Homo sapiens: one gene and its partners. The protein of the gene in region 2 interacts with the protein of the main gene of each other region in a pairwise test. Each region holds a gene or a part of one and is shown on either strand. Other genes may lie near its edges. The genes, in order: ZNF460, FGF12, TCOF1 and GRIP1.

Region 1 (4,130 bases), on a different chromosome or scaffold from region 2:
GGGGTTTCACCATGTTGGCCAGGCTGGTCTCAAACTCCTGACCTCAAGTGATCCGCCTGCCTTGGCCTCCCAAAGTGCTGGGATTACAGGGATGAGCCACTGTACCCAGCCCATCAAATCATAGCTATTTTCAAATCATCACTATTTTCATCTTATTGTTCTCACCAAAAAGGTGGTTTCATTTCTTCTGTACTATCTTAATAAGTTCTTTTGTGTATTGTGTTCCCTTCAGGTGACAGCACAAAACCTGAGACCGTAGAGCCTATCCCTTCTCATCTGGCCTTGCCTGAGGAAGTCTCACTCCAGGAACAGCTGGCACAGGGAGTCCCAAGATACTCCTATTTGGGGCAGGCCATGGATCAAGATGGGCCATCTGAAATGCAGGAATACTTTTTGAGACCAGGGACAGACCCACAGAGTGAGAAACTCCATGGGAAAATGAGCCTTGAACACGAAGGTTTGGCGACAGCTGATGGTATTTGTTCAATGATGATACAGAACCAAGTCTCACCAGAAGATGCTCTCTATGGATTTGACTCATATGGACCAGTTACAGATTCCTTGATTCATGAAGGGGAAAATTCCTATAAATTCGAGGAAATGTTTAATGAGAATTGCTTCCTTGTTCAGCATGAGCAGATTCTCCCTCGTGTGAAGCCCTATGATTGCCCAGAATGTGGGAAAGCCTTCGGCAAGAGCAAACACCTCCTTCAGCATCACATCATCCATACTGGGGAGAAGCCCTATAAATGCCTGGAGTGTGGGAAAGACTTCAACCGCAGGTCACACCTCACACGGCACCAGCGGACTCACAATGGAGATAAGCCCTTTGTGTGCAGTGAATGTGGAAGGACCTTCAATCGCGGGTCGCACCTTACACGGCACCAGCGGGTTCACAGTGGAGAGAAGCCTTTTGTGTGCAATGAATGTGGAAAGGCCTTTACCTACCGCTCCAATTTTGTCTTGCATAACAAGAGCCACAATGAGAAGAAACCCTTCGCATGCAGCGAATGTGGAAAAGGCTTTTATGAGAGTACAGCCCTCATTCAACACTTCATTATCCATACTGGGGAGAGGCCCTTTAAGTGCCTTGAGTGTGGGAAGGCCTTCAACTGCAGGTCACACCTCAAGCAGCATGAGCGGATTCACACTGGTGAGAAGCCCTTTGTGTGCAGTCAATGTGGAAAGGCCTTCACTCACTATTCCACCTATGTCCTGCATGAAAGAGCCCACACTGGAGAAAAGCCTTTTGAGTGCAAAGAATGTGGGAAAGCCTTTAGCATTCGAAAAGACCTCATTCGACACTTCAACATCCACACTGGAGAGAAGCCCTATGAGTGTTTACAGTGTGGAAAGGCTTTTACCCGCATGTCAGGGCTCACAAGGCACCAGTGGATTCATACTGGAGAGAAGCCGTATGTATGCATCCAATGTGGGAAAGCCTTTTGTCGGACCACAAACCTGATTCGACACTTTAGCATCCACACTGGAGAGAAGCCCTATGAATGCGTGGAGTGCGGGAAGGCCTTCAACCGCAGGTCACCCCTCACAAGGCACCAGCGGATTCACACTGCAGAGAAGTCCCACGAACCCATCCAGAGTGGGAACGTTTCTTGTGAGAGCACAGATCTCATTCAACACTCCATCATCCACACTGAGAGTAGCCCAGTGAGTGCAGTGAATATGGAAACGCCTTCAATTGCCGCTCATTCCTCCTCACTCGACATCAACGGATTCATAGTGGAAGAAACCCTACCATTGTAACAGATGTGGAAAGACTTTTTACGTACACTTCAGTCAACATCCAAGAATTCCTATTAGCGAAATAGTTTTTTAATATAACCACTGAAGAAAATCTGTGGTGAGAGGAAACATCTTACCATCTGGTCATTCATACTGAAGAGAAACTCCATAAGTATCATCTCTGTGGGAAAACCTGTTTTAGATCATCATTTGTCATCTAAACAATTATGTTAGAAATTGACACAGCCAAGAGTCTTATTCTACATCTGATAATTCACCCATGAAAGAGACCCAGTGGTTACTGTGCACTTAGGAAAACCTTCAGCCACATCTTTCTTATTAGTTTACAGTGAAATGTTATCTCAGGGACATTCAAACAAAGGAGGAGGAGTCATAGGGAAGAGAAAGAAATGGAAGCACAGCTTCTTTCAGACTTCCCTGACAAGCCCATGGCAATTTGTCATCCCCTCCTTATTTTATTTGGGAGAGGGAAATGTTTCAGAAACAAAAGGGCCTCATCCCCTTTATTTTCCCTGTGTATACATTCACTGCTGTCCAGTGCTGTAGACAAACGGTTTGTTTGAAAACATTTTGTGAAAGCCTGCTTTGTTCCACAGCATTGTCTCCACTCTTGAGGAGCAGAAGCATATATCTTTATGAGAAAGATGGAGGCTTGAGTTATGAAATACTTTTACATTTAAGGAGATAAAGGATGTACATATGAATGGGCACATTTTACTGCACACTTCAGACGCTTTGACTTTTTTAAAAAAATTGTTTCTCCGTGTGTCTTTAACCACCCAGTACCATACTTTTTTCTTGATCTGGATCTACTTGTCAATTTCTTCTTTATTTTTCTGTAGGATGGAGATGATATTGTAGCTGTTTGTACATAATGTAATCCAGGGAGTCCTAATTCTTCCCTCTGATTGTGGTTTCTCAGCTTTTTTACTGCTCTTTAGAGAGAGTAAATAGTTCAAAATTCACCTCAACAATTTTCTAGAGGTCAATTTGGAACCAAAAATGAAATAAGACATGTAGCTAAAGTAAGTTAAAAGATTATGATAAACTCAGAAAATAAACACAGAGAAGGAATCTCATTTTTCAGTCTTACAGAAGATTGTGTGAAGGCTGACTATACATAAAGTGACTGGAATTTTAACAGGTGAACCTGCATATGTATATGCAGGTAGTTGTCACCATGGATTGAGTCCAGTCGTAGTAATTAATATGTTTAATCAGAATATTTTGGAATTTCTCTTTTGGTATTCTTTTTGTTTCTTTTATTGTTTTTAATTGACAATGTTTATGGGGTTTGGTGTGATATTTCAATACATGTGTGCTAAGAGTAATGATCAAATCAGGGTAATTAGCATATCCATCTCAATCATTTATCATTTCTTTGTGTTTAGAAACATTCACAGTCTGCTTTTCTAGCTATTTGAAAATATAAAATGTATTATTGCCAATTGTACTCATTCTGCAGTGCCACAGAACACTACAACTTATTCAAATGGAATCTTACTTGCTGTAATTTTGTATTTGTTAACCAATCTCTATCTGCCTCTCTGCTGTCCTTCCCAGCCTCTGGTTACCACCATTCTCAACCTTTTATGCTTGCATATGAGTAGAAACATGGAGTATTTCTCTTTCTGTGTCTAGCTTATTTCACTTAATGTCTTTCAAGCTCATTCATGTTGCTGTGAATGACAGGTTTATTTTTCATGGCTGAGTAGTATTCCATTGTGTATATATGCCATGTTTTCTTTCTTCATTCATCTGATAATGGACACTTAGACTGATTTCTTAGCTATTATGAATAGTGCTTCAATAAACATAGGAGTGTAGATCTCTCTTTGACGTATAGATATATTTGTTTTTGCATATATGCCCAGTAGTGGTATAGATCATTACCAGTGGATCATATGGTAGTTGTATTTTTAACTTTTGTTTATTTTTCATTTTTTAAAATGGGGTCTTGCTGTGTTATTCAGGCTGGTCTCAGACTCCTGGGCTCAAGCAGTCCTGCACCTCAGCCTCCTGAGTAGCTGGGACTACAGGCACACACCACCGTGCCTGGCTATAGTTTTAGATTTTTGAGGAACATTCATACTGTTTTCCATATGGCTATACTAATTAGCATTCCTACCAGCCATATATAAGAGTTCCCCCTTTTCCATGTTCTCAGCAGCATTTTTTATTTTTTATCTTTGGTAATAGCCATCCTAACTGAGGTGAAATTATATCTCATTGTGGTTTTGATTTGCATTTCCCTGATTAGTGATGTTGAGCATTTTTTCATATACTTGGCCATTTGTATGTCTCCTTTTGAGGGATGTCTATTCACCTTATTTACCCATTTTAAAATCAGATTTTTTATTTTTATT
Region 2 (4,697 bases):
GCTGCGATGTGTGGTTTTGCTTGATTTTGTATTTTATTTGGGCATCTGGAATTGACACACCATTACATTCTGTTTGCAGGATTTTTTTTGTAACCATGAAATTGAACATTTCCAAATTATAAACTATGTTAATACCTATAAAATATATAGCCAGGAACCATTTATCATCAAGAAAAGTGTAAGAAATTATTTTTGAGATGTAATTTAAGATTGTTTTATGTAAAAGGAAAATCTTGTATGGCATCGAATAGCCTTAATGAGTTTAATTCTTTCACAAAAATGATTTCAAATTATCCTAGAGTATAACATTTTTATCAAAGATATTATTTCCGGAGTTCTTCTTTCTTTCTTTTTTTTTTTTTTTTAGTAATTTAGCAAAAACATTACTGTTCTAATGCTGAAGTGACTTTTGCCAGTGCCATGTCCAGGTGGTGAGGTATAAGTTACTTGCTCTTAGCATTTGGTCTGATTTTTTTGCTTTGTGGACACCTTTGAGAGTATCCACAAAGCAATGTCTCAGGTGTGGACACCTGAGAGCATGTTTTAGAAAGCTTTGTACCCTGTCTTGTGGCAGGAAAGAAAGAACAGGGGTTTTACATAAGGAAATAAGTCCTAGGAAATTAGTCAACGCAAATTGCATTTGCGTTTGTACCTTACCACAGTCTTATATTGTTTTTTAAACTCTGCCATGAAATTTGGAGACATGACTGTGAAATTCCTAACTTACTATCTTACAAAGCCAGTAGCTAATTTGTTGCTCTATGTATGATCCTGTTACAAGTCCAGTTTGCAATTCATTTGTTTCCTAGAACACAGAAGGGTACCAGTAATACACTAAATTTTCAAGGTGTGTAGAGAAATAATATGGAATTAGCAGCTATGACTCCAACAGACAGGATTGTGTGAGCAGCTGAAAGGAGCAAAAAAGAACTCAGTGTAAGAGAAGGCACATACATAGTTAAGAATACTAAAGTATTTTTAAAAATCAAGGAAGAAATAAATGTTACACAATTTGCATTGGAATAAATAGATCTATTTAGTCCTACAAATCAGGAGTGGTGTAGAGACATCCAAATTTAAAGAAAAAAAAACACAAAACAGAATGTTAAAAAATGTATGCAGATTTATGGATATTATCAATGAGAAGACATAGCATGTAACTTCTCCTATATCTCTACTGTCCAGCATGTATTGTTCCAAATATGACTCCCTAAAATATATACACTTTGCAGAAGCTCTAGGCCCTCACCTCAAACCTTGCCATTGGTTGCCGTATTTCAAGGTCAATATAGTTTCCCTCACTTTACACAATCATTATTCTTCAATAGTGGACCATATCCTTCACCAGGTATCCTATTTCTGTTATCTAGAGGTTAGCAGAAAATGAAATGAAGGAATTTCCCTAAGCAGTTGGGAAGAACAAATTGTATGCATGTAGGCAAAGATTTTGAAGATACATTTGCAAGAGATATTTGTTTAACCAAAATATTTGGAAAGTAACAAATAAAGACATTTAAATTTTCTAAAAATGGACTTGCTCTTCTAGGAAAAGAATACCCCTGGGGCAAAAATATAACTCTAGCTGTATTTCTTCTTGTCACTCTTGATTCAACTTGATTATAAATACACCTGTCACTACCAGAACCAAAAAAAAAAAGAAAAAAATCCCAAGCACAAAGCTTATTTTATTTGAAAAAAATAAAAAAGAAACTTCAACACTATGGGACACTGGCTCTTTTAGCATGAAATGACTTGAGCTTTTGTAGTGATGATACACATACACACTCATCAGTAAAACGATGGTTTCATAAATAACACAATTGATGCAAATCATAAAAATCAATTACAATTATGATTTCATGACAAAATATATTTAATTAAGTTTGTTATGAAAAAAATAGAGATATGAATCACTAACAAAATTCCTCCATTTTCAGTGGCTATTCATCATTTATCATCTAGACTCACATTTGTCTCCTTCCTGATAGCAGTTAAGAAAAAATTCTAACCACACAATTTGTATATTGTTTTTCTCCGTATTATGTTAAGCAAATGTTCACTGCAGTAAAATGTTTTGGAAATTAGCTTTGTCTTATTTCCAGTTTAGTTCAGAGAATTAATTGGAAACCTGATTTCTTTTACACATAAACCTGACAAAAAATGTAGCTTAGAGCAAAGGGTGAATGTTTGCTTAACTCCTGCTTACTTCTCAAGTACATGAAAACTTTAATAGAATATGCCAGTATTCACTGAGTTTTTAAAAATATTACCATGTGTAAACATATAATATCCAACTTCATCCAAAAATATGGTTGAGTTTAAGTACTTTGTTTTTCAGGCTTATTTCAAGTATAATAATTCTTTGATTTTCATTGTTCTGATTTCTGGGTCTTCAATTCATTCGTCACTTTTCCTTTTTAAGTAAAATAAGCTTTTTTTTTTTTTTTTTTTTTTTTTTGGAGTTGCATTGGGATTTTTCCCAGGAAAAAATATGGCTTTTAGTAATGCTTTGCAATTGGCTACGCAGATATAAATTAAGATATGTTTATTCTGAGTTCTTATTGGAATAAGTTTCAAAATCAACGAGCTTAAGAATGAAAACAAAACTTTTGAGAGTCTCACAAAATAGCTTTCTGGTCAATACACCTTACTTGATTTTTAAGCTCGCAGAATAAAGTATAGAAACAAATGGAGCTGAAGTTCCATTTGCTAATTCAGAGACTTTTGTGCTTCCGCAAATTGGAGGGCAGCAAGCCATCCTATTCTCATAGTAATCGTTTTGGCTTTGAAATTTACATACAATTTAATAGCACATTTTTAGCCATTATGGATTGGCGCAATAAAGAGATATCAATGTAATGCAATGTGATGCTTTATGGGCCTCATTCTAATTCAGAAAGCTTGTTTAAAAGAACTAAGACTCTTCTGTTTAATAAAATAGCAACAATCTAATATCTAGATTGGTAGTCCTGCGGTGCCACTAGTGGGAGATGAGAGTATTAAGACAAGAGTAAGGACAAGGAAAGACTTAAAGGTTGCATATTGAAAAGTTTGGAATTCCTAATTTGGGAGCACTGATTTCTTGGTGAAGAAGTAAGTATGACTACGTTGCCAGTAATTTTTTAAAAACATAGACCCAGAAATAGCAAATCGATTTCACCCTCATACCTTAGTCTACAAGGCCTTGCTCTTGAGAAGGTTTTCCATGATATTGCTTAATTTCATCTGCACAAGATGAGACACAAACATAAAAATTCCCTGCTCATTTTAATACCATAAAAGGCTGAGGTTATTTCTCTGTCATAAAATTGTAAATAGCATTTTTTAAGTCAAAATTACATTTAAAACAGTGGATTGTTCTACAAATATATATGTGTATATATACATATGCTTCTGAAATAAGGATATATTATATGAGTTTTTATTTGATTTGTGGTCTTTAGTCATAGGTAATCAAAAATAAAGAGATTTGAATGCAAAACTTTATACATTAATGTACATTTCTAATGATGGTACAAATTGCCACTTTATAATAAAAAAGAAACAGGTGGGAATAATAATCAAAGCACGTGTTCCTTCAGTACTTTGGTGATTTTTAATCCCCCTTGTGATGCACAGGAAATTATTTTTTAGTTACAAAAAGTTATCTTAGAAATCTATACTTCCCAATACAGATTTCATGTTAAGTCATATCAAATTGAGAATTTGTGGTGAAAGAATAGGAAAAGGATGCTAGATGCTGATCTTTCTTTTTCAGGATTTTTCCTGGAGCCCAAGTTAAAAATTCAATACTTAAATCTAAGTTAAGTGAAAATTAATAATGTTCAGAATGATGTATTGAGCTTTAGTAACAGACGGAAGCAAAAAAAAATAAGAATATTTAACATTATGATAATAGCCTTAAAATAATGTAATAAAAATTGCATCATTAAATGTTCTATTAGTTGGAAAGAATGAGCTGATGTTTCTTTGTCTTTGCTCCAAGTACAATTTAAAGACAGTGACATTCATTTTACTTAAAATTGTTCAAAAAGTCCAAAACATACTCCCATGGCTAGAATTGGTATTAGCTCCAATACAAGGTTAAATGTTACAATCTTAAGAAATTATTGACACTGAAATGTTTAGTAAACATGTTGTATGAGAAACTAAACAAATTAATGTTTCATTTTTCCATTAAAGCACAGATTATTCAAATCATTGTTTTCTGAGCTCAGATTTGTAAAACGTTTATACATCATTACCCTCCTGGAATTAAAAACAATTAAAATCCTGAGATGCTCATGCACGTAGACGAAATACTGGCACTTTTTTTTAAACATTAAACTTCTTTGAGAAGTCTACCTTTTTTTTTTTAGTGTGTTTATCCTATATTGCTGAAAAAGCGCTGTGTCTTTTTAAGAAAAAGATCAAAAATTGATTTACAGATGGGAAAGATGTCTAATTTTGTAGAAGAGTTGAAAGAAAAGTAAATGTTTCTTTGTAATTACGTAGCTACTTGTCTCAACCTGACATCTTGCTTTCAAGGATTAAGAACTAAAGTACGTTCATTTATTCTTTTATTCATAACATACCAACTAGAGGCTCAGTTGAGTTTAGGCATCATACACTGAATTGCAATCTCAAAACAACAACAACAAAGGCAGACACATAAATAAATAATGCAATACCTAAAAGTATGTGCTATGATAAATGCA
Region 3 (7,000 bases), on a different chromosome or scaffold from region 2:
GCCCTGCCAGTTCTGTCCCAAACCTTCCAGAGACAAGAAGAACAACCAATCCCAACTAAAACCTTTTTAGACAACCCCTTTGAAAGGCCAGAGGTGGAATGTTCCAAGCTAGCATTCATCCAGCTCCCAGCCTCTCTGGCACTATCCATGCCTAGAGGCCATGAGACAGGGTTTTCCCCACCTTTGACCTTTAAAAAAGCTTTCAAAGACGTGGCCAGCCAATCTTCCCAAAGCACGAATCACAGCCCAGACACCTGAGGCATCCAGGTGGCATGACCACAGTCTACTAGTCTGCTGGGAGAAGACTGGGCCCAAATGGTACCAGTCCCTTGGTGGAAGCAGAGGGAACCAGGTGGAATCCAGGCCTTTGGAGCAGAGGCCAGAGGGCCCAATGTCTCTGTAAATGTCAATAAGCCAGGATATCAAGTACTCTAATGAGGCTAAGCAATGTGGGGCACGGGTGGACTGAACTAATCTCGTCACGTCTTCGAACTTCAGATTTCTTCTTAACATGGGGACAACAGCGATACCTACCTTGCAGGCTGCTATCTGGTTTGAACAAGACCATCTGTCAGTGCCCAGCAGTGAGCCGGTAACACTAAGATTTCAAGAGTCAGTTTCCCTCTGCTCCACCTCAGGCAAAGTGTCCTCCTTGCTGTCCTCAAATGTGTCAGGCCACCCTGCCTCTAACGCGGCCTTGCTATTCTTCTTGTCTGGAATGTTCTCTCCCCTGTTAACTACACAGCTCACTCCCTCATTTCCTTCAGGTCTCTGCCCAAATGACACCTTCTCAATGAGACTTCCTTGACTACCCTACTTATAATCGAAGTCTGACATCCCTTATCCCCCTTGCCTGCCTTTTATAGCAAGCACCAACTATCATTGGATATACTATATCATTAACTTATTAAACTTTTTCTATTTGTCACCTGTCTGCTCCTACTAGAATGTGTGCTCCATGACGGCAGGATATTTTGCTCCAATGAAGATGGGTACTATCTCTTGCTCCCCTTATCTGTGAAGTACCATAGCTGCGGTAGGAAGAGCAAGTGAGGTTCAGAGAAACTGGGAAAAGCATACATAACGTCTTAGGGCCCATCACCCTTTAGTCCCTCCAGGAGGTTCTGAGAGCAAGCATTAGGAGCAGAGCCTACACCACAGGGCAAAGGGATCTGACTACTTAGGATACTGTCTCACCAGTTCAAAACTCTCCATTGGTTTACCACTGCTCTTCCAAGGAAGATCAAACTGCCCACCAGACCACTCCAGCCAGCCCCTGCCTCCATCTCCCCAGGGGCATCTGGCCCTTGTACTTCACACTTCAGCCACTATGGACGTTTTTTTTTTTTTTGAGATGGAGTCTCGCCTTGTCACCCAGGATGGAGTGCAGTGGCTCAGTCTCAGCTCAGTGCAACCTCTGCCTCCTGGGTTCAAGTGATTCTCCTGACTCAGCCTCCCGAGTAACTGGGACTACAGGTGCATGCCACCATGCATGGCTAATTTTTGCATTTTTAGTAGAGACAGGGTTTCACCATGTCGGTCAGGCTGGTTTTGAACTCCTGGCCTCAAGTGATCCGCCTGCCTCGGCCTCCCAAAGTGCTGGGATTACAGGCGTGAGCTACCGTACCTGGCCTGCTATGGACTTAAAAAAAATTTTTTTTTGAGACAGTGTCTTGCTCTGTTGCCCAGGCTGGAGTGCAGTGGCATGATCATGGCTCATACTGTATCCTCAAATTCCTGGGCTCAAGAGAGTGGACTTTCTCCAGGCCAGTGTGTACACAAGTTCCCTCCCACCACAAGGCATTTACACCTCAGCTATTCCTGACCAGGGCAATCTGCCATCCATCTCTCTTTTTTTTTTGAGGCAGAGTCTCGCTTTATCGCCCAGGCTGGAGTGCAGTGGCACGATCTTGACTCATTGCAACCTCTGCCTCCCGGGTTCAAGCAATTCTTGTGCCTCAGCCACATGAGTAGCCAGGATTACAGGCGTGCGCCAACATGCCCAGCTAATTTTTGTATTTTTAGTAGAAACGGTGTTTCACCATGTTGGCCAGGCTGGTCTCGAACTTCTGACCTCAGGTGATCCGCTAGTCTCGGCCTCCCTAAGTGCTGGGATTACAGGCGTGAGCTACCGTGCCCGGCCCATCCCTCTCATTCTTAACACTTATTGCGGTGCTAAGCATATAGTCACTTTTGTGATTCTTTGATTTGTCTACCTTACTAGAGTGTAAGCTCCAGGAGGGCTGAGAGATGGTGCTCACCATTCGAACACCAGGAAGCACCCTGAGTACCGGATTAACAGTTGAATTAATCAAGTAAGAAATGACTGTACCACGAGTTCGAGTACCAAAGCTGACCGTCTCAGTACAGACAATCGCTAAAGGCCTGAGTTCCAGCTCAACTAAGAGGCTGTAGGGTCCCTTTTCCAGGCGCTCCCCCGAGGGGCTGGTCGCAATCCACCCCCGAGACTCGCAGCAACCTCCTTGCCCCAGGGGGGGCCGCGCAGAGCCTAGCCACGTGGCGGGAGACTTAGGAAACTTAAAATACCCGCTACCAGGAAGGGCGTGGAGGTAAGGGAAGCGGGAATTACAAAGTTCGGCCCCTGCGAGCACACTTTCTGGCCCAACCCACTGCCCGGATGAGGAAAGTGAGGCCCAGGGGAACTGAAGTCGCAGTGGGAAGGCAGAGATTGCGGCTCCTCCGGTACCCCTGGCCGCGCCGTCGAGCACTGCGGGACCCGGCTCCGGGCGCCTGCCGGGTCGCCTGGGGACGGGGCGCGGGCCGCGGGCCGCTGATCTCCACATCTTGCACGCGGCCCTCGCACACGGCCCACGAACGCTTACCTGGCCGCTCTGCTCCTTCACTTCCCGCGCCGCACGCACATAGCCAGCCCGCAGCAGATGGTGGTAGATCAGGGGAAGTAGCTCCCGCCGCTTCCTGGCCTCGGCCATACCCGCGACCCCCGGCCGGCCGGCTACCTGCACGCCCCGCCTTAGTCCCCGCCCGCCACTTCCCTCGCGCCCTTAGACCTCGCGCGCCACACTTCCGGCTCCTCTTTCGCTCCGGCCGCGCGGCGCGCCGGGAAACGTAGTCCCCTCTCCGGGAGTGGCCGGCCCCGCCCCTCAAGGCGAAGGGGGCGGAGACTCGTGATCAACAATACCGCCCATTGGCGCGGAGCATGCGGGGCTAGACAGGGACCCGCCCCCGGGGCCGGCCGGGACTTGGACGACTCTCTTTTAATCCTTCCGGCTGGCTTCTTGAAGAGATTTATCTTCCTTGTTAATTCTCTGATGGCTGGGTCTGCGTTTTACTCATCTCTGAACTCCCTAATCTGGATCTTTCTCTAGATCCGAACTTTGTACTGCCATTACCTGCTCATTTATCCATTTCGCACGGTTTTTGGTGCCCATGAACCAGACACGAATTGCCAGTTTATTCATTGATTCATTCGCTAACTGAACAAATCTGTAATAAGCACCTAACTTGGGCTAGCACCCGGCTAGGCTAGGGGGATTCAAAAGATGCATAATACATGGCAGTTGCCCTCAAAGCTCACAGAGACGACTGTCCGTAACCAAGCAACTATAGTTCAATATCTTGTGTGCCTTGTCAGGGACAGATGCAGCCTATGGGCGCCCCAAGGAGGAGCACCGAACCCCAGAGAGATATCTAAGCTGAGGCATAAAGACACCCGAAATTGCTGGGTGCAAAGGAGAGGACTGGCAGAGGGCACTGCATGAGTCTAGGCATGAGAAAACACCCTGCTATTGCCTGGGAACCCTAAACCCAGAACCCCTAGTCTGCGCTGCTGGGCTGTCCAGGTGGGGTGGGGTGAGGTGGGGAAGAGGGAACAAATGAGGGCACATGAGGATGAAGAAGTAGACAAGGCCTACAACTCCCCCACCCCCAACAGAGTTTGGACTTTGCTCTGAGGGCATTAGATAGTCTCTGACTGGCTTTTCCGAGGAGGTTGACCCTGTTTTGTGTTTTTAAAAGATTGCTAAAACCAAAGCACATACCATTAATACTAAATGTGAGGCTGTTGTAGTTGTTGAGGGAAGGATGGCAGGGAAAAGGTGAGGTAGGCTGGAGAATGTTAGAGTGAGCTGTTCTTAACTTCACCGACCCATTGAGAATCTGAGGGCAGCATGTTTCTTACGGGCGCAGGAGTCCCTAACCCTAGGAGGTCCAGGTATGTGGTTATCTTTGTCTTGAACTTGAATGGAAAATGTTATGTGTCTGTACACATTCAACATTTCCCATTTTCTTGAGCAAATATTTATTGAGTACCTACCATTGGGGATGGAATAGTCTCTACTCCTATAGAGCTTACAGTCTAGTGATGGAATTGTCTCTACTCCAATAGAGCTTACAGTCTAACGGAGGAGACACATACTAAACTAATAGTCATACAATACAGTGTTACAAACAGCGGGTAAGTGCAGGAAGGAAAAGGATAGTGTTTTCTTATGTAATAATATAGTGTTTAAAAGCTGCACTGGAGTCACACTGCCTGGGTTCAAATTCTGGCTTTGCCTCATTAACTAGGTGACTTTGGGCAAGTCACTGTGACTCAGTTTCTTTATCTGTACAATGGAGATAATTATAATTTCTACCTCACTGGGTTGTCATAAGGAGTAAATGAATTCTCAGCAGAAATGCTTAGAGGAGCTCTGAACAATAGCGCTCTCTGTGTGCGTGTGTGCTATTATTGTGAAAGCATATAACAGGAAGGAGGGATCTATTTTTTTCTTGGGAGTTAGGGAAGGATTCCCTGAGAAATTAATGGTTATGAGGAAACCAGAACTGTGTGTAAGGGAGAGTCAGAGAGAAGAAACCTGAGCAGAGGGAAGAACCTGTGCAAAGGGCCTAGGGCAGAAGGTACAGCTGAGAGAATAGACACAAAAAGGCCTTTGTAGCATAGTCCGGAGGGAGAGCAGGGGGACTGGGGAGTGTAGAAGGTGGGCAGAGGGCAGACTCCATGTGAAGGATTGGCCACATCAGGGTTTTTTTTCCTCCATCCTAAGAGCCATTGGAAGCCACTGACGGTGTAAGCCCAAGAGGTACAGGATGAAATCTGAATTTTACTGTGACCTGTGTGCCTGCCCAGTGGAGAGTGGAGTGTGTCTGGTGGGTATGAGTAGATGTGGGAAGACAAGTCAGGGTTAGGAGTGCAGGCAGGCATCCAGGGAGAAGACAGTGTATGTGGGGGGGGGGGGCGGGTGGTAGGTGGCGGGGGCAGCGGGGAGGGTGCTGGTGGCAGTGGAGTTGAAGAGAGTGGAAGGTTCCCAGAGTTAATCAGGAACTAAAGTTTTCACAGAGGTGTGTTGGAATGGGAGGGGAAGGAAAAGGCAATGTCAGAATGGACCTTGAGGTTTCTGTGCAAACAAGTAGGCAGTATTTTTCACTGAGATAGAAAAAACTAGAAGAGGACTGAGACAGGGGGGTGGTTTGATTGAGGAGAGGAGGATGTGGACAGAGAGGTGAAAGTATATATTCTATGTTAGACATCTTGAGCTTGAAATGCCTTACAGTCACCACATGCAGATGTTGAGAAGGTTCTTGGAAACCTGGGTTTGGACGTGGCGTGGAGGTCTGGGCTAGAGATGAAGATGAGAAGTTGTCGATAGACAGATGATAATTGCGGCTGTGGATGAGGAGAAGCTTACCCAGGGAGAAGAATGTGGAGAGAGAAGAGAGATGGCCCAGGATGAAGTTTTGAGGTACATCTACAGATTAGGGCTGTGTACAAAAGGATCTGCCTGCAAAGGCTGATCAGGAGTGGCTGGACAGCTTGGAGAAAGCCCAGGAGAGTGGGCTTATGGAAGGAGGCCAAGGGAGACATTTTAGAAAGCTGGGAAGACTTGATGGAGGGAATGCTCTGAGAGGTCAGATAGGAGGAGGGTGCAGCCCTGGGCTTTGGTTTATGGACAGGCGTGGAGATTGTTGGGGACTTAGGGAGGGCTATTTATGTGTGGCATGATGGAGGGGGTCAGATGGCAGTGGTCTGATGAGTGCAGGAGGGATGAGGGAGGCAGTGGGTCTTTCGAGAAGTTTTTGTATAAAAAGGACGAGAAAGATAAAGTGCTAGGGCCAATATGTATGTTAGGGGAGGTGTGTTTCAAGGTAGAAGAAACCTGAGATTTGTTTAAAAGTGAATGGCAGATCCAGGAGAGAGAGGTTAACCAAGAGTGTAAGAAATAGGGGAGATAATCAGCGAGTAAAGTTCTCTCAAGCATGTGCGAGGGGCTGGGATCAGGCATGTGGGTTGGGGGGGTTCGTCTTGGGGAGGAGGAGGGATGAGTTCTCTAGAACCCAAAAGCAGGAACAAAGAGAGGATGGGTGCAGATGTAGATGTAGGTTTATAGTGGGATGTTAAGGGAGATTTCATTTTGAGCTTCTATTTTTTCTGCAAAGTGGGAGGCAAGGTCTTCTGCTGAGAGTGAAGAAGAGGTGGTGAGGAGTTTGAAAGAATGATCATTCAGAGTGTTGAGAAGCAACTTGCCCACAAAATCCCCAATTGCCTGACAGCCTTGGCTCCCCAGTTGAGGTTGGTGGTCCTTAGTGTATGTGTGTCTCGTCCTGTCCTGCTGAGTGAATTCCTCCATCAGGGCTCACCTACCCAGCTGCAGGCTGGGGAGATGTATGTACATAGTGGGATTTATCCAGGCCTAGGGCTTTGCCAGATGGGTGGGGAAAAAAGGGCACAGGAGTCTAAAGTATTGGCAAAGAGATGCTAAAATTCTGGGTCCTGGGATCTACACTGGGTAGCGAGGGAAGCAAGGCAGATGGATGTTTGCAGGGAGAGAGTGGAATCCTTCACGGGCCAGGCCTTATGAGGGACCCCTGAGATCAGAGAGGGCTGGGAGCTGGAACTGGTGGTGACACCCAGGTTTCTGCTTGGGTGGCTGGATGGGTGATGAATGTACATGATGAGCATACAAACCATTGTAAGATCTAAGATTTTTTTCCACCAACACCTCCAGGAACCAGTTTTCAT
Region 4 (7,045 bases), on a different chromosome or scaffold from region 2:
TTATGGAGTCTCCTGGGAACAAGGCAACTATTACAGCCTTAAAGGGAACAGAGAGAATGTGCAGGGGCTTCCTGGAACAAGGCAGAGAGCCTGCTGAGAGGCTGGAGGGACAGGTTGGAGAGATAAGCTGTATCTCACAACATAATATTGAATAGGAAAAATAAAAGTGTGGTTCTATGCCTTGCTTTTATTTTTGTTTTAATTTTTTTTGAGACGTAGTCTTGTTCTATTGCCCAGGCTGGAGTGCAGTGGCATGATCTTGGCTCACTGCAATCTCCGCCTCCTGGTTCAAGCGATTCTCCTGCCTCAGCCTCCCGAGTAGCTGGGATTACAGGTGTGTGCCACCACGCCTGGCTAGTTTTTGTATTTTTAGTAGAGATGGGGTTTCGCCACGTTGCTCAGGCTGGTCTTGAACTCCTGACCTCAGGTGATTTGCCCACCTCAGCCTCCCAAAGTGCTGGGAATATAGGCCTGAGCCACTGCACCCAGCTGTGCCTTGCTTTTAAAAAGTCAACCTCACAAGCACAATCTGGAGAGATGCAGTTTAACTGAATATCACGGGTAAAGAAAAAAAAACACATTCACAAGACTTTGAGATCTCGGTAAACTGTAAGCGCAAAATGAGTGACAGATGTGCCATGACCACTAAAATTCTTATGTTGAGGTAGGTGTCATTGATCAGTTCTCCTGTCTTCAATGATGCCAGTGACCAGCTTGCTTTGCTCCGGGCTGTCGGGCTGTTGTGTGATTTTCCTTTCTGAATGTTACACTTTAACGGGTACACAGGTAAACTGAAGCACATTCGTAAGGGAGGTCCACAGGACGATACAGATACTCGTCAGTAAATTATAGAAGACACAGTTAAAGGAACTGGGGCTATTTTGCTTGGAGAAGGAAAGCCTCAACAGAGACCCAATAGCTGTCTTCGAGTATCTAAGGGGCTGTCAGGAGAAGAGGCTTTAGTCTAGTGCAGAATGACCTTGAGGGTATAGCCGGGACTATTAGGCATACTGCAGCTCAATACAAGTGAGAGCTTTAGAGTCATCAGAGCTACGTGGAGATGGGGGGCTGCCTCAGCACAAGGAACAACCTGTCACCTTGGGCATTCAAGTCCATGCAGCGTGTCTTGGCGTGCAGTGAGGCAGGACCTGGCACCAAGGGCTGCACTGGACATCAGACTAGCTGACTCCTAAACCCTTTCCAAACCTGAAATCCTGCCTTCAGCTCCCATGTTCGTCACAAGAATTAATGGGGATTAGTTATGTGAAAGTGCTTTGTAAACTCTAGAGTGTTCTATATATATAAAGGGTTATTACTATTTTTTCATTACCTTGGAGTACTTCGATTCTATCCTGATTGCCATTGTCTCTACTTATCCCTCAGTTCCCTTCAACCTCATAAAAATGTCTAAATTATAAATGCAAAATGTAATATTATGACTATGATTCAAAATTTCAAAATGCTTCACAAATAGTAAATGGTTTTTCATCTTTTACTAGTGAGGGGCAGGTCCTATATTCAGTTTGCTTCTCATGGTCCTGTGTCTGTGGTTTCAAGGGATGGAGTAGCTAAGGTCTTACAGATCACCTTACAGGGAAGAACTAATTAATATCAATAGCACCCTCACAAAAATCTCTGGTAACAAAAATATCTCTACATTAATAAGCAATACACAAAAAATACACAAATAAATAACCAATACACAATAAATTGATAAATAAACCTGAGTCTACTCTGATAGAATGTGACTTCTGTCCTTTACTCAGTGTCTTCTGGTGGCCCATCAATTCTCAGGCAATCAGAAGGTCTGTTATTTGGTGGCATAGGTGAACTTGTCACAAGGTATTATGACTTGGAAAAATTAATTGCCAGATAAAGCCCCAATTCTACTTAGGTGTTCAAAGTATTTTCCCCACCTAACTCCAGTATCATCTCTAATGAAAGTAACAACTTGACAACTTTGAAATATCATCTCCTTTCATTTTTTTTTCCAGTTTTTTCTCCCTTCCATTTTTGTTTTTTGTTCACCAGAGGACTTAACAGAGAGTGACACAACATAGGCAGGCTGAGAGAAGGAAACTAGGAAAACCAGGAGAGAGCAAACTGGATACAGACACTCCTAAAAAGTACAGTTAACTCAGTGACAAAGCAGCCCTCACACCAATGTGTTCTCTAAACTGTTTATGTGTTTTATTATTTGACTGACTGAAACCCAGAGCAAACAAGGGATTCAGAGGCTGGAATTTACATAGAACATGAGAGAAGGTAAGGCTCAGATGAGGAGAAATACCAAGAAGTTTTGACATACTTCTCTTGTTGATGCTACGGATCACTGGGAAGAAAATATTTTTTAAAAGAAGCTATTAGTTTATGCTCTGTATTCAGTCTGACACCTTTTATGTGTTTATATTCCATGAGTGAGGCTTTTTAATGTAGATAGTATTTCTTCACATGACGATGACACCTATGAAGAAAAATCTACTCTATACTTTCCTATATTGTGATTATAGTGCTCTAATTATAAACATTCAGGGAAAGGGCATGGTGGCTCATGCCTATTATCCTAGCACTTTGGGAGGCCAAGATGGGAGGATTGCTGGAGGCCAGAAGTTTGATACCAGCCTGGAGAACATGACAAGACCCCGTATCTACAAAAATTTAAAAATCAGCTGGGTGTGGTGGTGTGTGCACATAGTCTCAGCTACTGAGGAGACTGAGGCAGCAAGATCCCTTGAGTCCAGGAGTTTGAGACTATAATGAACTATGATGGTGCCAGGGTATTCTAGCTGGGGTGACAGAGTGAGACCCAGTCTCTAAAAGAAAAAAAAAAGTCAGGAGTGTGCAGGAATAAATAGAGTCACAAATCATTGGCTAATCTCTTATGCACCTCTTCCAAACTCCCCAATCCATCTTTGTGGAAAGCTTGCTGAAAAATAAGGCAATGGGGCCTGTATTGAACGAGCCACTTTATTGTATGGTTTGCCTCACATTAATCTAAGCTTGAAGGACAAGCCCTGGATGGGATACTTGGCCATCAGTAGACCTAATGGAGGCCTGTTAGTGTTTGGTAAAGGTTCATGCCTTATAAGCACTAGAAGAAAATGCATGGCCAGCAGAGTGTAAGTATTCAATGTGTTCAATATGATTATGGCTGCACCAAAGCAGACACAAGTTAAAGAAAGATATTCTCCTCATGGAGCAGAGGATGAATCTTGGAGAAGCATGGGCTTCAACAATGACAAGTCCTCTGGGGGACAAAGTAAAGACATACCTTGAGTTCCATAGCTGGTGTCTATTGCAGACCCATCCCATGAATCCACAGCACTGTCCACACTGGGCACCGTGGAGGGGTACATGTCGGAGAGCTTGCCTGGCTTCTGTGCTGGTGAGGAGTCCTCCTCCACATCCCCCAGGTCACTCAAATGGCTAGAAATAGGGAACTTCTTGGGGCTCGATGCTGACTGGGCTTTATAGACAGGAAAGGAGTTTAAGTATCAGAGTAAATTTAAATAAAAATATACCAAGATACTCCGTGGCTAGAGATTTGTTTCCCTAGAATTACACACAGACACTAGCACATTCTTTCAAGGAAGAAAATGCACTGGAAATCCTTAATTGTGGCTTTCAATTCACTACTCACCATCTGTCTGTTTCTTAATTTTCAAGGTGACAGTCTCTCCTGCCATCTGTAACAAATGGATGGCTTCACTCAGAGGCTTCCCTTTCAAGCTGCTGCTATTGATGGCTAGGATTCGGTCTCCTATGTGGATTGCGCCAGTTCTGAAAAGCCAAATAGTAATAGGAGAGGTAGAAATAATCCCTGTATGGTACTGAATATAAATTCCCTGACATACCTTATACATTCATCATAATAAAGACTTGGTAAGGATCTCCAGAAGTCCCTTCTTGCTTTCTCCTGGGCAATGTTATAAGATAACTGCATCTGTTGTGGATTACTTTTTAGTTTCCAATAAAATTTTAAAAATTGTTTTAATTAGTTATTAAAATGAACTGTGTTTTTTAATTCCAAGAAAGCTGAGTCATTGGTTAAGCACCCTAAAAATCCCAAGAAAATGAACAATGTTGAATGACAAATGTAGTGGATAGCATGGAGCATCCTTTCTTTCTACAGATTTTTTTTTTTTTTTTTTTTTTTTTTTGAGACAGAGCCTCACTGTGTCACCCAGGCTGGAGTCCAGTGGCACGATCTTGGCTCACTGCAACCTCCGCATCCCGGGTTCAAGCAATTCTCCAGCCTCAGCCTCCCAAGTAGCTGGGATTACAGGCAAGCACCACCATCCCCAGCTAATTTTTCTATTTTTAGTAGAGATGAGGTTTCCCCATTGGCCAGGCTGGTCTTGAACTGACCTCGTGATCCATCTACCTCGGCCTCCCAAAGTTCTGGGATTACAGGTGTGAGCCACCGCACCTGGCCTGTATGAGCTAATTTCTAAGGTACACTGCAGCTCCAACATTTTGCAATGCTGTGTCTCTATTTTGCTAGCCACTGTTTTCAACTGTTAGCAGGAACAATGCATTTGTGTATTCCTGAGCTAGGTTACTGGAGGGCAGATTTGCTTATAGGGTTTGTTATATGTCCAACAACACATCTCAGAAAGAAATGCAGTTTAGCGGAGGGTGGGGAGTGGGTGTGTGTGTACATCATTGCCAAAGGAAAAAATGGACATTCCAGCTTTTAAGACATTATTAAAATGGGTTATACACTTTGTTTCCCATAATCCTTGAAGATGATGTCTGTATCATCCTTTTCTGAAAACACAGCAGCTAAGTGTGGCACCTGTCAGGTAACAGAGGCTCAGCAAGTGTTTGCTGAATGAAATTGGACAAGCTGTTCAACCTCCCTGAACTTTAGTTTCCTCCTCTCAAAATGGACACAATACAAATCCGCCTTCAGTCAATTGTGGTCAGCTTATACATTTCAGAGAGTAGTATCAATGCTAAGCCCAAGACGTCTTTTACTGCCTGTAAGATGCCCCTCAGAGTCAAGTCGGAACTCTGCCTGAGAGTTCTCAGGCTCTAAGATCAATCCTTTGTGCAGATTTTTAAAAGCCAACAGATAACCACAGAGAGAGGAGCATGTTTTTATGTGGTTGTGAGGAAGGAAGCCCGTCTCAGACACAGGTAATTATAACAGTTACTTCAAATTTTACCTTTCAGCTAATCCCCCTTTAGTGAGGCTTGAAATGATTATAGGATCAAACGGCTCTTCAGTTCCTGAAATTGTGATGCCAAGGGGCCCCCCGTAGCGTTTAAGCTCCACGGTGTAAATAATTGCTCCGGAACTTTCTTGCTCATCTGTAATAAATGCCAAGGAATCATAATTGATTTCTTTGGAAAAAGCAAAAGAGTAAGATGCATAGATTCATACATAAAAGAATTCAAAACATCCTCGTCAAAGTATCATGTCACAGAAAATAATTATTTTGGGAAGTAGCATTTCCTTAGTAGGATCTTACATTCAAATACAGGGATATAATCATTGTCAGTGCCAGGGGAGAGGAACACTGCCTAATGACTTATGTTTTAAATGTGTGAGATCCGCCCAGCTGGGGCTGCAGGACCTTTCAACTGTGTCCATGTCTAGGACAGTGCTTACCTAGCATTTAGTAAGTATGCAGTAAATATCTGTGAAATAAACATATGGCTGAGGAGGCATTATAATATGAGAGGAGAGAGTCACTCAGTAACAAAGAAGACAGACATTGGGTCACGCTGTTTCCGTTTTAAGCTTTACATGCATGCTAACTTTTGATATAGAAAAGTGGATTTTGCGAAGGGTTGGAACAAATAACATATATATGGTTAAGTGGAACTTAGATAAGTAAACTTGAAGACAACAGCAAGAAATCTAGAATCTCTTAGATATCATTCCACTGACTGTCTTCTAATGTGAGTCCTATCAGTGAATTACGGATATTAAAGTGGAGGTTTGAATGATCATCTCTCCTCTTTCAATGGAGTAACAGCTGTTGTAAGCTATGTTTCAACAGCATAGACCAGCCTGCCACACTGTCATAAACTAATTTTGGCTATTCAACATTATTATAGTTGAAGACACTTGTGAATGTGCTCTGCCTAAAGCACTGGCCAGAAAGATATCATGGGCCGCCTTCAACGTGATGGGTATTGTGATGGTGTCAGAGTTGCAAATAAGAAGTCTCAGAATTCAAAGGTTTTATTTGCTTCTGACATGCTTAAAGTTCTTGGGCACTTCTTGTTTTATTCCTTGGGCCTGGGAGCTGTGAATGGTTAAGGAACTGTTTCATTTCTGCAACTAAGGATAAAATGAAATGGTTCAGTGGCTACTTTAGCAAAATAGTCAGCTTTTACAGTCAGACTACATCCTAGTGAAGCATTAACATGGCCACATTTTTGCAGTGAGCAGCTGTTCGTTTACGATATGAAATCCTAAAATAAGGAGGAAAACCAAAGCTTGAGTTAACAATTCAATTATTTGTGTTTGCAGTGAAGAATTATGATGAATATAAAATGAAAGGTCTATCAAGTCATTTGGGAAGCAATGTGTCCTCTCTCGCCAGCACTTACTTCACTTCTGGCCATAGATTGGGAGTTTTGAATGCAGCCATTACCTCCACTTTCTGAGTGCTCTACTCAACGTATTTACTCCACACATTCAGAACTAAAGACCATCCACCACACACTGCAATGCTTAAGTCAACATTTTAGGGCACAAAATCTTCAACATTGGGCTCAAATTTACATTAGCAGCTGAGAAGCTCCCATATCAAGCCTAAAACAGCTCTGTTTGCTGGTTCACAAGTTTCTTCTGGGCTGATGCTGAAGTTGTGGCCAATAGGCTGGTGATGATCTGCTAAGGGCTCCAGAGAGAAACATCAAGATAGAGGGTAACCAAATAATCAGCAGAGGTCAAAAGTCTAAATTTTCCTACAGTACGATATTTTGTCACCTTTCAGAGCTGGCTTTGACCTAAATGAACAGAGTACTATTGGATAGATTACATGTACTTTGCAGCCCTCATCATCAACAATATCCTGGATGAAAT

The links.
Region 1: the proteins of FGF12 (region 2) and ZNF460 interact in binary tests that used the Homo sapiens proteins (3 or more experiments, as listed by UniProt).
Region 3: the proteins of FGF12 (region 2) and TCOF1 interact in binary tests that used the Homo sapiens proteins (3 or more experiments, as listed by UniProt).
Region 4: the proteins of FGF12 (region 2) and GRIP1 interact in binary tests that used the Homo sapiens proteins (3 or more experiments, as listed by UniProt).

Annotation. Positions count from the first base shown.
Region 1 is NC_000019.10:57,290,467-57,294,596, forward strand, and holds the end of ZNF460 (zinc finger protein 460), read left to right. Parts: intron 1-232; coding exon 233-1,764; 3' UTR 1,765-3,603; downstream 3,604-4,130. UniProt on the Homo sapiens protein: May be involved in transcriptional regulation.
Region 2 is NC_000003.12:192,138,890-192,143,586, reverse strand, and holds the end of FGF12 (fibroblast growth factor 12), read left to right. Parts: 3' UTR 1-4,197; downstream 4,198-4,697. UniProt on the Homo sapiens protein: Involved in nervous system development and function. Involved in the positive regulation of voltage-gated sodium channel activity. Promotes neuronal excitability by elevating the voltage dependence of neuronal sodium channel SCN8A fast inactivation.
Region 3 is NC_000005.10:150,353,698-150,360,697, reverse strand, and holds the start of TCOF1 (treacle protein), read right to left. Parts: upstream 3,002-7,000; 5' UTR 2,952-3,001; coding exon 2,844-2,951; intron 1-2,843.
Region 4 is NC_000012.12:66,389,037-66,396,081, forward strand, and holds part of GRIP1 (glutamate receptor-interacting protein 1), read right to left. Parts: intron 5,317-7,045; coding exon 5,172-5,316; intron 3,781-5,171; coding exon 3,641-3,780; intron 3,467-3,640; coding exon 3,272-3,466; intron 1-3,271. UniProt on the Homo sapiens protein: May play a role as a localized scaffold for the assembly of a multiprotein signaling complex and as mediator of the trafficking of its binding partners at specific subcellular location in neurons.